Linked DNA regions of Homo sapiens: region 2 is linked to region 1. Evidence: fine-mapped expression QTL. A gene starts in region 1. The other region holds a variant in brackets. All regions are shown on one strand. Distances are from middle to middle. Region 1 holds the start of NEK1 (NIMA related kinase 1). Region 2 overlaps NEK1 (NIMA related kinase 1).

Region 1 (5,384 bases):
TTTTAGGCCCTTCTCTAATCACAAAAGATTGTAGGTAAGTATGCATATTCTCACTCATAGGTGGGAATTGAACAATGAGAACACAAGGACACAGGAAGGGGAACATCACACACCGGGGCCTGTTCTGGGGTGGGAGGAGGGGGGAGGGTTAGCATTAACATGTTAAATGACGAGTTAATGGGTGCAGCACACCAACATGGCACATGTATACATATGTAACCTGCATGTTGTACACAAGTACCCTAAAACTTAAAGTATAATTTAAAAAAAAAGATTTTAGGTGAGTATAATCAGAACTTATGCCTTCATAAATACATAGTCTTAATAAAATCATTTACATAATAATTTCACAAAGGGAAAATAGTGTAGTTCTATACCAACCATTTGCTCTAATTTGTTATTCTCTATTTTGTTTCACCTTGCTGCCTGCTTTCTAGAAAGAAGGAATAACAATATCCATTCTTTGAATATGTTTGTCCCCATCATCTAACATATAGTGCTTAATTGTGAATGCATGGCAGAATATATTTCTGAAAAATCTAGTAGAATAGCTTAGGTATACTGCTAGTCCCCTTCCATTTACTATATTGTACTACCACTATTAATAAGGAGTTAAGAAATTTTCATAACCAAGACATAGGAGTGTTAAAGTGAAAAAATATGCATACATTTTGACCCAGCAAACCTACTTTTCGAAATCTATCCCACAGAAGTAATTATACCATTGGAAACAATATGTCTACTGAATGGAGTAGATTTTGGTATAGCCATATCATGAAATATCAATATCATTCACAAGAATTAGTTGATATCCGCATAGATGTTCATATACTATTAAATTTAAAAATGTACGTTGCAAAATAATATGTATACTATAGTCCCGGCTAGGCACAGTGGCTCACGCCTGTAATCCCAGCACTTTGGGAGGCCAAAGCAGGCAGAATTACTTGAGCTCAGGAGTTCAAAACCAGCCTGAGCAACATGGTAGAACCCATCTCTACAAAACACACACACAAGAAGCCTGGGCAACATGGCAAAAACCCTATCTCTACAAAAAAAATACCGAAATTAGCCAGGTGTGATGGCACGCACCCATGGTCCCAGCTGCTCGGGAGGCTGAAGTGGGAGAATCACTTGAGCCTGGAAGGCGGAGGTTGCAGGGAGCTAAGATCGCGCCACTGCACTCCAGCTTGGGAAACAGAATGAGACCCTGTCTCCAAAATAAATAAGTAAATAAAAGACTAAGACTAATATATAAAATATAAAAATGCATGCTTATGTTTTTAGGAACTTAGAGAAAAATGTAGATGATATTAATTAACTGTTAACATTGGTTTCGTGGAGGACAGCACAGAAGAGCTCTGGGAAGGAGACGATAGGCTTTATCTTTGTGTACTTGTGTTACTGGCTTGTTGCAAGAAGCAAAAACTTTTTTGTTTGAAAGAAAAGTCCAATAAAATATTTAAAGAAAAAGAAACCCCAAAGCACTCTTGTTTAAAAATAAAAAAAAAAATCAATTGTACAGGGGTATATAAACCAGAAAGGGAAATCAGGTAATCTTCTTAGGTAACCTGCTTTATTTACTCATCAATATATCAATGGTATCTTTGTATGTCAATAAAGTAGATCTTGATTACTCTTTTAAATGGCTTTAGAGTATTTCATTGTTTGGATATATTATAATTTAATCAATTCTTTATTGTTATACATTTACAGTATTTCTAGTTTTTCTGGTTATAAACAATAACGGTTATCCTTGTATATAAATCATTGCTCACTTGTTCCAGAAGTTAAATTGCTGAGTCAAAGGATATGCATACTGCTAGCATACCTTCTAGAAAGACTGTAGCAGTTTGTAGTCCTACCAATAGTTTATGACATGAGCCTAAAGAATTATCTAAGGAGGTTAGCTGACTAGCCATTCTTCCTGTAAGCAGCAAAAAGAATTTGCTTAGATTAGTAATTGGCAACATTTCACTTCACTTTGATGTACAAAAGGATGTGGGTAGAACTACAATTGTGCATTCAGACATGATAATTCCTACTAACTGGGGGTAGGAGGGCCCACAGGAGTGTAGACTAGAAGTAGAAAGAATGAGGAAAATAAGTCTTTTGTAGCTGTATGGCGATTGAAGAGGAGATAAAACAAACTCTCCAGCTTTTCAGGTTGGGTGACTTGCAGCGCCATCGTCTGGCAAAGCCGCCAAAATCTTTCAATGTCCCTAGGAATAAAGTTGCCCTGAGTAGGGCCACTCAGGATGACGCCAGATGATATCCCTTATTATAGTTTTAGGGGAATCTCTTCCTACCTTCGCCAGTCCTGCAGTGAAAAAATGTACTTAGACTGCTGTACATTTCCAAACCCTTCAACATACAGACAAGTAATTTATACATACATTAGATGTAAAGGTGTAGAAAACCCCATACAGCTTTTTAAAAATATCTCAAGACTTAAACATTCTTCTGTTTCAACCATCCAAGATATAATAGGAAAAGACTTGCTTTTTAAAGCAAAATTGCTCTTTAAAATGTGGCATCCCTAAGTAGTGCGCTTTCATGTAAAATAAAAAAGTCCCTTTCTCGGTGTAGTAGCTGTGGGAAAATTTTATATGCTTTATATTCCAAATTGGTTTCAACTAGTGAGTTCTCTCCCGCATCTCTGCATGACTCTTAACAGCTTTACACTCTCTCCATCCTTTTCATCTCTCCCGTCTCGTCCTTTCTGTCTTCCCGCCTGCAGAGCCCGCCCCTCCCGTCCCTTCGCACAGCACCCCGCCCGCCCCTTCGCACAGCACCCCGCCCGACCCTACGGTTCTAGCCCAGCCTCACTGCTCCTTCCCAGCCGCCTCCGCTGCGTGCCGCCTTCCACGCGCTGACGTCACACGCCAGCGCCGGTGACGCGCCGGCCGCTCTCCCTTAGTCCGCATTCGCTCCAGGGTTTTGGGACCCTAGGTTGCGGAGTCCTTACCCTACCCTGGCCTCTCGAGCAGTTGTCCCCATAACTCGGAATCTAGAGCCGCTGTTGCGAGGCAGGAGCACGTGGCAGTCAAGTAGCTTCCCAGTCCCGAACGCCGCCCGTCCCCACCCCGCCGTGGCCACTAGCAACGACCTCTGTGAAGTTGGAGAGGCGGTAACGGAGGCACTCCCCCTGCTGCACCCCGCCGTTTCTACGGGGCTCAGAAACCAGTTTGTTTGTTTCGTCGGGGTAGTGTCGACCTGTCTTACGGGCGTCGCCCGAGACAGGACGGAGTCAAACCCGTGGTATCAACTGAAGACGAGTGTCAGGTGTGGAGAGTCTCAGTGCCCCCTTTCAGTCTGGACTGTGAGCTGCTGCTGGTTAGACAGTCTTGGTTTCTCTTTCAGGATGTCATTTTCAAAATGCGGGATGGTACCTCTGCTTTATTAAGCCCCGTAGGAAGACTGCCACACCTAGACTGATGCTTATTAGTCATCACCGTTATTCCTACTAACGTCCTGTGTCACTGAGGTGAGTTCCACTTGGGGGAAGGAATGACATGCAAAATGGTAAAAATCATCCTGGAAATGAGATGTGCGTAGAACTGCTTATATTGAGATTACACAGATACCTTAAGTGTTTGCAGGGAAAATACCTTAATCTCATTTAAATGTTAATTCTCTAAGACACTCTGTATTAACAAAGCGATTCTTGGACATTACGGTATTTTTAAAAACTAGAGCGGTAATGGGATTAAAATAATAGGAATCTTAGTATGGATAAGCAAGCATTTGCATTGCTTATGTTGTGTCCAATCTTAAATTACTGATAAATTTTAATTAGGAAGCGAATATGAGTAGTAGTTAGCTGGTTACCCTGTAATCTTAGATTTCTGTTTCCATGATTTGACACAGTTTCCATATGTAAGGCATTAATTGTTGTACTACTTTAAGAGTTTATCATAACTTTTTTTGCAGGCCTATTTTTTGTTCTTTAAGATCTGCTTTAGGAAGCAGAAATATTTTTTATTGCCTTGGTATGTTTCATTAGAAATGTTTATGAAGGATTAAAAGTGGCATCCAATCTAAGTTAATGACCTTTTTTTATGATGCAGCAGTATTGTAGAGCTGATGGAGGGGAGCCAAATTTGGAGAGAAGTAACTCCTTGTTTCTAGTTTACATTTGTCTGGTTTTAGAGGTTCTACAGATCTGTTTCACTTAAAATATCCATTGTTCTAGGTGAAATGTAAGGAGCCTATTTTGTGGGAAAACAGGTTTTTTTCACGTTAAAAGTCACTGTCAGGAATTTAATAAAGGTCGTCGGACTTGACCACAGAAGTTCTTTTGAGGTCGTGTGAATAGTACATTGACATTGTATTCCAAGTAAATTTTGCCCTGTCTAATCTCCTGCCTTCTAGTCTAAGTCATGAACATGACACCTTTTCACGAATGTACATTCTTTATTTACCTGTTGGTAGTTTCTACTACAAAATCTGTTGAATATTGTCTGAATAGACTTACAGAGAAGAAAAAATATTTTGAAAAAAGTCTAATAGAAATTCCATTTTTGCTTTCTGCTTTTTCGAATAAAGGAAGATAAAGAACTTTTTTCCTGAGAAGATAAATGGATCCCCTCCCACTATTCAAGATGGTATTTATTGCTTAGGCAGAACTGTATGTATGGATTGTAGCTGCATACAGCGCCAAAAGACTTCTTGAAACCTGTTGCCATGCCTTTACCATGTTTCCCTTCAAGACAGCCTGTCTATAGAATATCTGAAACACCTGATGAGAGCTTAATGCTTAACCTAAGTATGTGTTCCAGATTGATCGAAGTTGAGCTTTTCCATTCATATACTCTAAAATTGTTTATATGTGGCTCACAAAATTTTATTATGTCCAAAATTGCTTATTTGTGGCTTTAAAGAAATTCTTAGTGGCTGGGTGCTGTGGCTCTTACCTGTAATCCCAGCAGTTTGGGAGGCCACGGTGGGTGGATCACTTGAGGTCAGGAGGTTGAGACAAGCCTGGCTGACCTGGCGAACCCATATCTACCAAAAATACAAAAAATTAGACGGGCGTGGTGGTGCGTGCCTGTAATCCCAGCTACTTGGAAGGCTAACACAGGATAATTGCTTGAACCCGGGAGGCAGAGGTTGCAGTGAGCCGAGATACTGCCACTGCACTGTAGCCTGGGCGACTGAGTGAGGCTTGTCTCAAAGAAAAAAGAAAAAAAGAAAGAAATTCTGGGTCAGACGCTGTGGCTCACACCTGTATTCCCAGCATTTTGGGAAGCCGAGGCAAGTGGATCATTTGAGGTCAGGAGTTCGAGACCAGCCTGGCCAGTATGGCGAAACCCCGTCTCTACTAAAAATACAAAAATTAGCTGGGTATGGTGTCACACTCCTGTAATCCCAGCTACTTGGGA
Region 2 (5,384 bases), 120 kb after region 1:
ACCAGAGAAGCCCAGAAAGGGCCATTGGGCCCCAACAGAAAGAACTGCTGCCATGTCCACAATCATGCACTTTGGCGAGATGAGAAGGTGAGAGATGACCCCCTTCTCCACGTTTGTTCCGAGGCATTGGCGCTGCCCCCTTCAGTGGTTAGTGCTGCACCCACATTTCCTGTTTCCCATTGGTGGCTTTGACAGGCTGCTCTGTCTCCTCCTTGAGGGGCAGTTTGTGCCAAGTGTTCAATCTGTGGGAGACCCCAAACTCCCTGAGAATCTGCTGGTGTCATGTACTTGCCAAAGTCAGAGTAGGTTGTGTAGTATGTCTGCGGGTGGTGGTGCAGTGGCTCAAGGGCAGAGGATCTACAAGCAAGGGGAGTGGCACCACAGGTACACAACTGGTATGACAACTGCCATCTCAGTTTGGATCAGAGGTGGGTGCAGCATGGCTAAGTCAGCTGCTCACCCAGTTCTCTGTTTTCAGGAAGTCCTCTAATCGCCACCGATAGTGTTGCCCTGGCTTGCAAGGGCTGAGGGGCTCCCCAGCTGTTTAGCAGCCAGTGTGTTGTCAGAGGGGTGAGGGGAGCAGAGACACACTCCCACCTACAGTTTCTGCTGGACTCTGAGTTCCTCAGCGGTCGCTATCAACCAGACTTTTGCTGCTTTCTTTCTCTCCACCCAATCTTCTTCACGTGGGTACTCCAACAGGTCCTGGCTCTGTTCCCTCTGTTTCCTTGTCAAAACTTGATGATTTACCAGTAATTTTGATCTTCCTTCTGAGGAGAACGGGCATGAGATGTCCGTAGTCACAATCTTGAAGCAGCGTCTGAATCTTATTTTTCCATCCATTCTAAATCTTTTGATTGGAGAGCTTAATTACATTGAAGATTGTTATTGATAGGTAAGCACGTACTACTGCATTTGTTATTGTTTTCTGGTTGTTTTTTGGTCCTTTGTTCCTTTCTTCTTCTCTTATTGTCTACTCTTGTGATTTTGTGCTATGTGCTAAGTTTTGATTCCTTTCTCGTTCTCATTTGTGTATCTACTGTAGTTTTTTGCTTTGTAGTTAATCATGAGGCTTACACAAAGCATCTTATAGTAATAATAGACTATTTTAAGCTGATAACAATTTAACTTTGTCACATGAAGATATTCTAGACTTTTACCCTCCTCACAATTATTTTGGCTGTCACAGTTTATACCTTTTTACATTTTGGACTTCATAACAACTTAATGCAATTACAGTTGTTTTTTACTGTTTCAACATTTAACCTTTATAATAGCAATTTGAGAGATTTACACACCATTGTTGCAGTAATGGAATATTCTGAATTTGAATATATATAAATACCTCTCTACCAGTGAGTTTTATACTTTGATATGTTCTTGTGGTAGTAGTTATTGTTCTTTTGTTTCTGGTTGAAGAACTCTTAAGCATTTCTTGTAAATCAGTTCTAGAGGTGATGAATTCCCTTAGCTTCTGTCTATCTGGGAAAGACTTTACTTCTATTTTATTTCTGAAAAACAGCTTTTCTAAGTATAGTATTGTTGGCTGGCAGGGTTTTTTTAATTAGCACCTTGAGTATATTATCCCATTCTCTCCTGACCTGCAAGATTTCTGCTGAGAAATCTGCTGATAGTCTAATGGCGAGCCCCTTGTATGTTGCTTGATGCTCTTCTCCCTCTGCTTTTAAAATTCTTTGTCTTTTACTTTTAATGTTTTAAATTATAAAGTGCCTTGGTGAGGACCTCTTTGCATTGAACCTGTTTGTTAGTTTTCAACTTCTGTAGATATGGATGACCATATCACTCCCAAGACTTGGGAAGTGTTCAGCAAGTACTTCACTTAAAAAGCCTTCTGTGCCTTTCTCCATCTCTCTTTTTTTTTTTTTTTTTTTTTTTTTTTGAGATGGAGTCTTCCTCTGTTGCTGGAGTGCAGTGACGTAATCTTGGCTCACTGCAGCCTCCACCTCCTGGGTTCAAGCGATTCTCCTGCCTCAGCCTCCCAAGTAGCTGGGACTACAGGCGCATGCCACCACACCTGGCTAATTTTTTGTATTTTTAGTAGAGACAGGGCTTCACCATGTTAGCCAGGATGGTCTTGATCTCCTGACCTCGTGATCCTCCCGCCTTGGCCTCCCAAAGTGCTGGGATTACAGGCGTGAGCCACCATGCCCGGCCTCATCTCTTCTCTTTCTAGAGCTCATACTGTGACATTTGTTCCTTTCATGGTGTTCCATAATTCCTATAGGCTTTCTTCACTTTTTCTCTATCTGGGCAACTTCAAAAGACCTATCTTCAAATTCACAGATTGTTTCCTCTGCTTGATCTAGTCTGCTGTTGAAGCTCTCAGTTTTTAACAATTTCATTCATTGAATTCTTCAGCCCCAAGATTTCTGTTTGGTTCTTTTTGTGTTATGTATATCTTTATTGAGCTTGTGATTCATATCATGGATTATTTTGCTGATTTCATTGAATTGTCTATCCTCTTGTATATCCCTGAGTTTCCGTAAGATCATTACTTTGATTTCTCTATCAGGTAATTTGTAAATTTCCATTTCTTTGGGGTCATTATCTGGAGAATTATTCCTTTGATGGTGTCATGTTTTCCTGCTTTTTCATGTTTCTTGTGTCCTTGCATTGATAACTGCACATCTAGTGGATCAGTGACCTCTTCCAAATCTATAGAGTTGCTTTTGTAGGGGATGATTTTACCTATAGATGATTGCTAGGGGGTCAGTTGAGCAGGGTGCATTGGCT[C/G]TGTGGGTGGTGGTGCAGTGGCTCAAGGGCAGAGGTTCTGCCTCTGGTTCCAGGTAGGCACGGTAGTGTAGTGTCCATGCAGCTCCTTCAGTTGTAATCAATTTGAGTAATGGCTGCAGGTACTTTAGCCATGACTGTAGGAGTGTGTGACAGCAGTGGTAGCAGCATAGGTTATTAGGATTCTCAGTGACAAGGGCTTTAGTGGGGGTCCTCCTGCTCTTGTTTATCGTACCGTGGGGAGACTTTGTTGGGGAAATCCTTCTTGTTGTCAGATTTGGCAGAGCTCACAAGCAGCCTACAGTGGTGCTAGGGTCCTGGGCCCACTGTCTTCCTGAATTACTATGATACTTGTGACTTGAGTACAAGTTCACTCTCTGAGGTATGGGTAGATGAAGCTGTTCTACAAAGGTGGGGACTGACTCTAAGGCATTCCCCAGTAGCTTGGGCCCAGGTAGCAGGGATATAGCTGTGACTCTGATCCTGAGAGTCAGGGCACAGCACTGGCATGGGTCTGGAGAAGAAGAGATGTTCTAGAGGCTTGGACCCTAGGGAGCAGGGCATAACTGCACTTCAGTTTCTGGAGCCAGTAGGGCATAGTGGCAACTTGGACACCAGGAGAGGAGGTTCCTTGTAGTGGTGACTCTGGCATGGCAGGACATAGCAATGGACCAGACTTTGTGAGGCTGGGTACAGCAGCAACAAGGGCCCATGAATGGTGGGGCACAGCTGTGACTTAGGCATTGGGGAAGGGAATAGCACAACAATGACTCCACCCTTCTGTATATGGCCATACTTAGCCTGTGCTTCACAGGGTTTCTGCCACTCCCTTGCTATTCTCTGACATTCTTAAGTCACTCTGGTCAAAATGCAGTTATCAATTCATTGTTTTTGTCCTTTTTTGTGGGGCAGAGGGTAGAGCATTAGGCATTTGTAATTTGCCATCCTGCTGATGTCACCACCCTCCTTGCCTGGCTGCCTGGCTACCTAGCTGCCTCCTTCCCTCCCTCCCTCCGCCCCTCTATAGTTAGTTTCTATTGCCTTCAACCAAAGAATCTTAACTGATTTACCACGTAAAATGCTCAGCATGGTACCTGGTGAATAGTAACACAAATAAATTCATTGGGAATTCTGTGTCTCATGATATTCCAGAGCTGTGCATAAGGAAATGTTCAGGAAACATCTGTTTATTTAATGCACACTGGTATAGTGGGAAAAAAATGAGACTGGGAATCAGAATACCTGATTTTGGTCTCAGCCTTGCCAATTAATTAGCTTGTTTGAAGATTGACTTAATGTTTGTGGCCTTTATTTCCTCGTCTAGATGAAGGGCATATTCTCTAATGTTGCTCTATCTAAATTGTATAGAAAAATAGTATCCATAATGTAAGTATTTAGATCCAGCTTAATATACAAAAAAAAATTGATTAAAGTTATTTAACTATTATTTCAATAGAAAGTCTAATATAGCATAATCTAGATGTTATATTGGGGGGTAGTGTTCATATATCTATCTTTACTCATTGACCGTTACTCAGGAGTGGTTAACATGGAATTCAGAATTGAAGCTAGCATTATTAAGCCCCCTAAAATATTAATGTAAAGTTTGGCAGTATGTATGTTGGTGCATTTTCTTCAGTAAAACCACGTATATTTCCTTGGATTCTCAAAAGTATAATATTTTCAATCTAACAAAGGATAAAAATCACTGCCCTGTAACCAAACCAGCATGGTACTGGTACAAAAATAGACACATAGAACAATGGAAGAGAATAGAGAACTCAGAAATAAACCACATACCTACACGGAACTGATCTTTGAAAAACCTGACAAAAACAAGCAATAGGGAAAGGATTTCCTATTTAATAAATGGTGCTGGGAGAACTGGCTAGTCATATGCAGAAAATTGAAACTGGATCCCCCTTCCTTAAACTTTATACAAAAGTTAACGCAAGATGGATTAAAGATGTAAATGTAAAACCCAAAACTATAGAAATCCTAGAAGAAAATCTAGGCAGTATCGTTCAGGACACAGGCACAAATAAAGATTTCATGATGAAATGCCAAAAGCAATAGCGACAAAAGCAAAAATTGGCAAATGGGATCTAATTAACTAAAGAGCTTTTGCACAGCAAAAGAAACTGTCATCAGAGTGAACAGACAACCTACAGAATGGGAGAAAATTTTTGCAATCTATCCATCTGACAAAGAGCTAATATCCAGAGTCTACAAGGAACTTAAACAAATTTACAAGAAAAAAACAAAAATGTCCATTTTTACGCATTAAAAAATGGGCAAAGGACATAAACAGACACTTCTTAAAAAGAAGACATGCATGCAGCCAACAAACATGAAAAAAAGCTCAACATCTCTGATCATTAGAGAAATGCAAATCAGAACCACAGAGAAATACCATATCACATCAGTCAGAATGGCAATTATTAAAAAATCAAGAAACAACAGATGCTGGCAAAGTTACAGAGAAAAAGGAATGCATTTACACTGTTGGTGGGAGTGTAAATTAGTTTAGCCATTTTGGAAGACAGTGTGGGGATTCCTCAAAGATCTAGAAGCAGGTACACCATTTGACCCAGCAATCCCATTACTGGGTATATACCCCAAAATATATAAAT

What was found.
Region 2: its variant is fine-mapped to the expression of NEK1 in whole blood (INTERVAL, PIP above 0.99).

The regions. Positions count from the first base shown.
Region 1 is chr4:169,610,123-169,615,506 of GRCh38, reverse strand. It overlaps NEK1 (NIMA related kinase 1), which reads left to right and starts at 2,924. Exons shown (of 36, transcript NM_001199397.3): 1 at 2,924-3,285; 2 at 3,364-3,487. RefSeq lists enhancers at 2,852-2,911, 3,332-3,451.
Region 2 is chr4:169,487,653-169,493,036 of GRCh38, reverse strand. All of the region lies in intron 23 of NEK1 (NIMA related kinase 1), which reads left to right. Among named protein-coding and RNA genes, the nearest start is that of NEK1, 120 kb to the left of the region's middle. The variant C/G (reference allele first, on the strand shown) is at 2,755.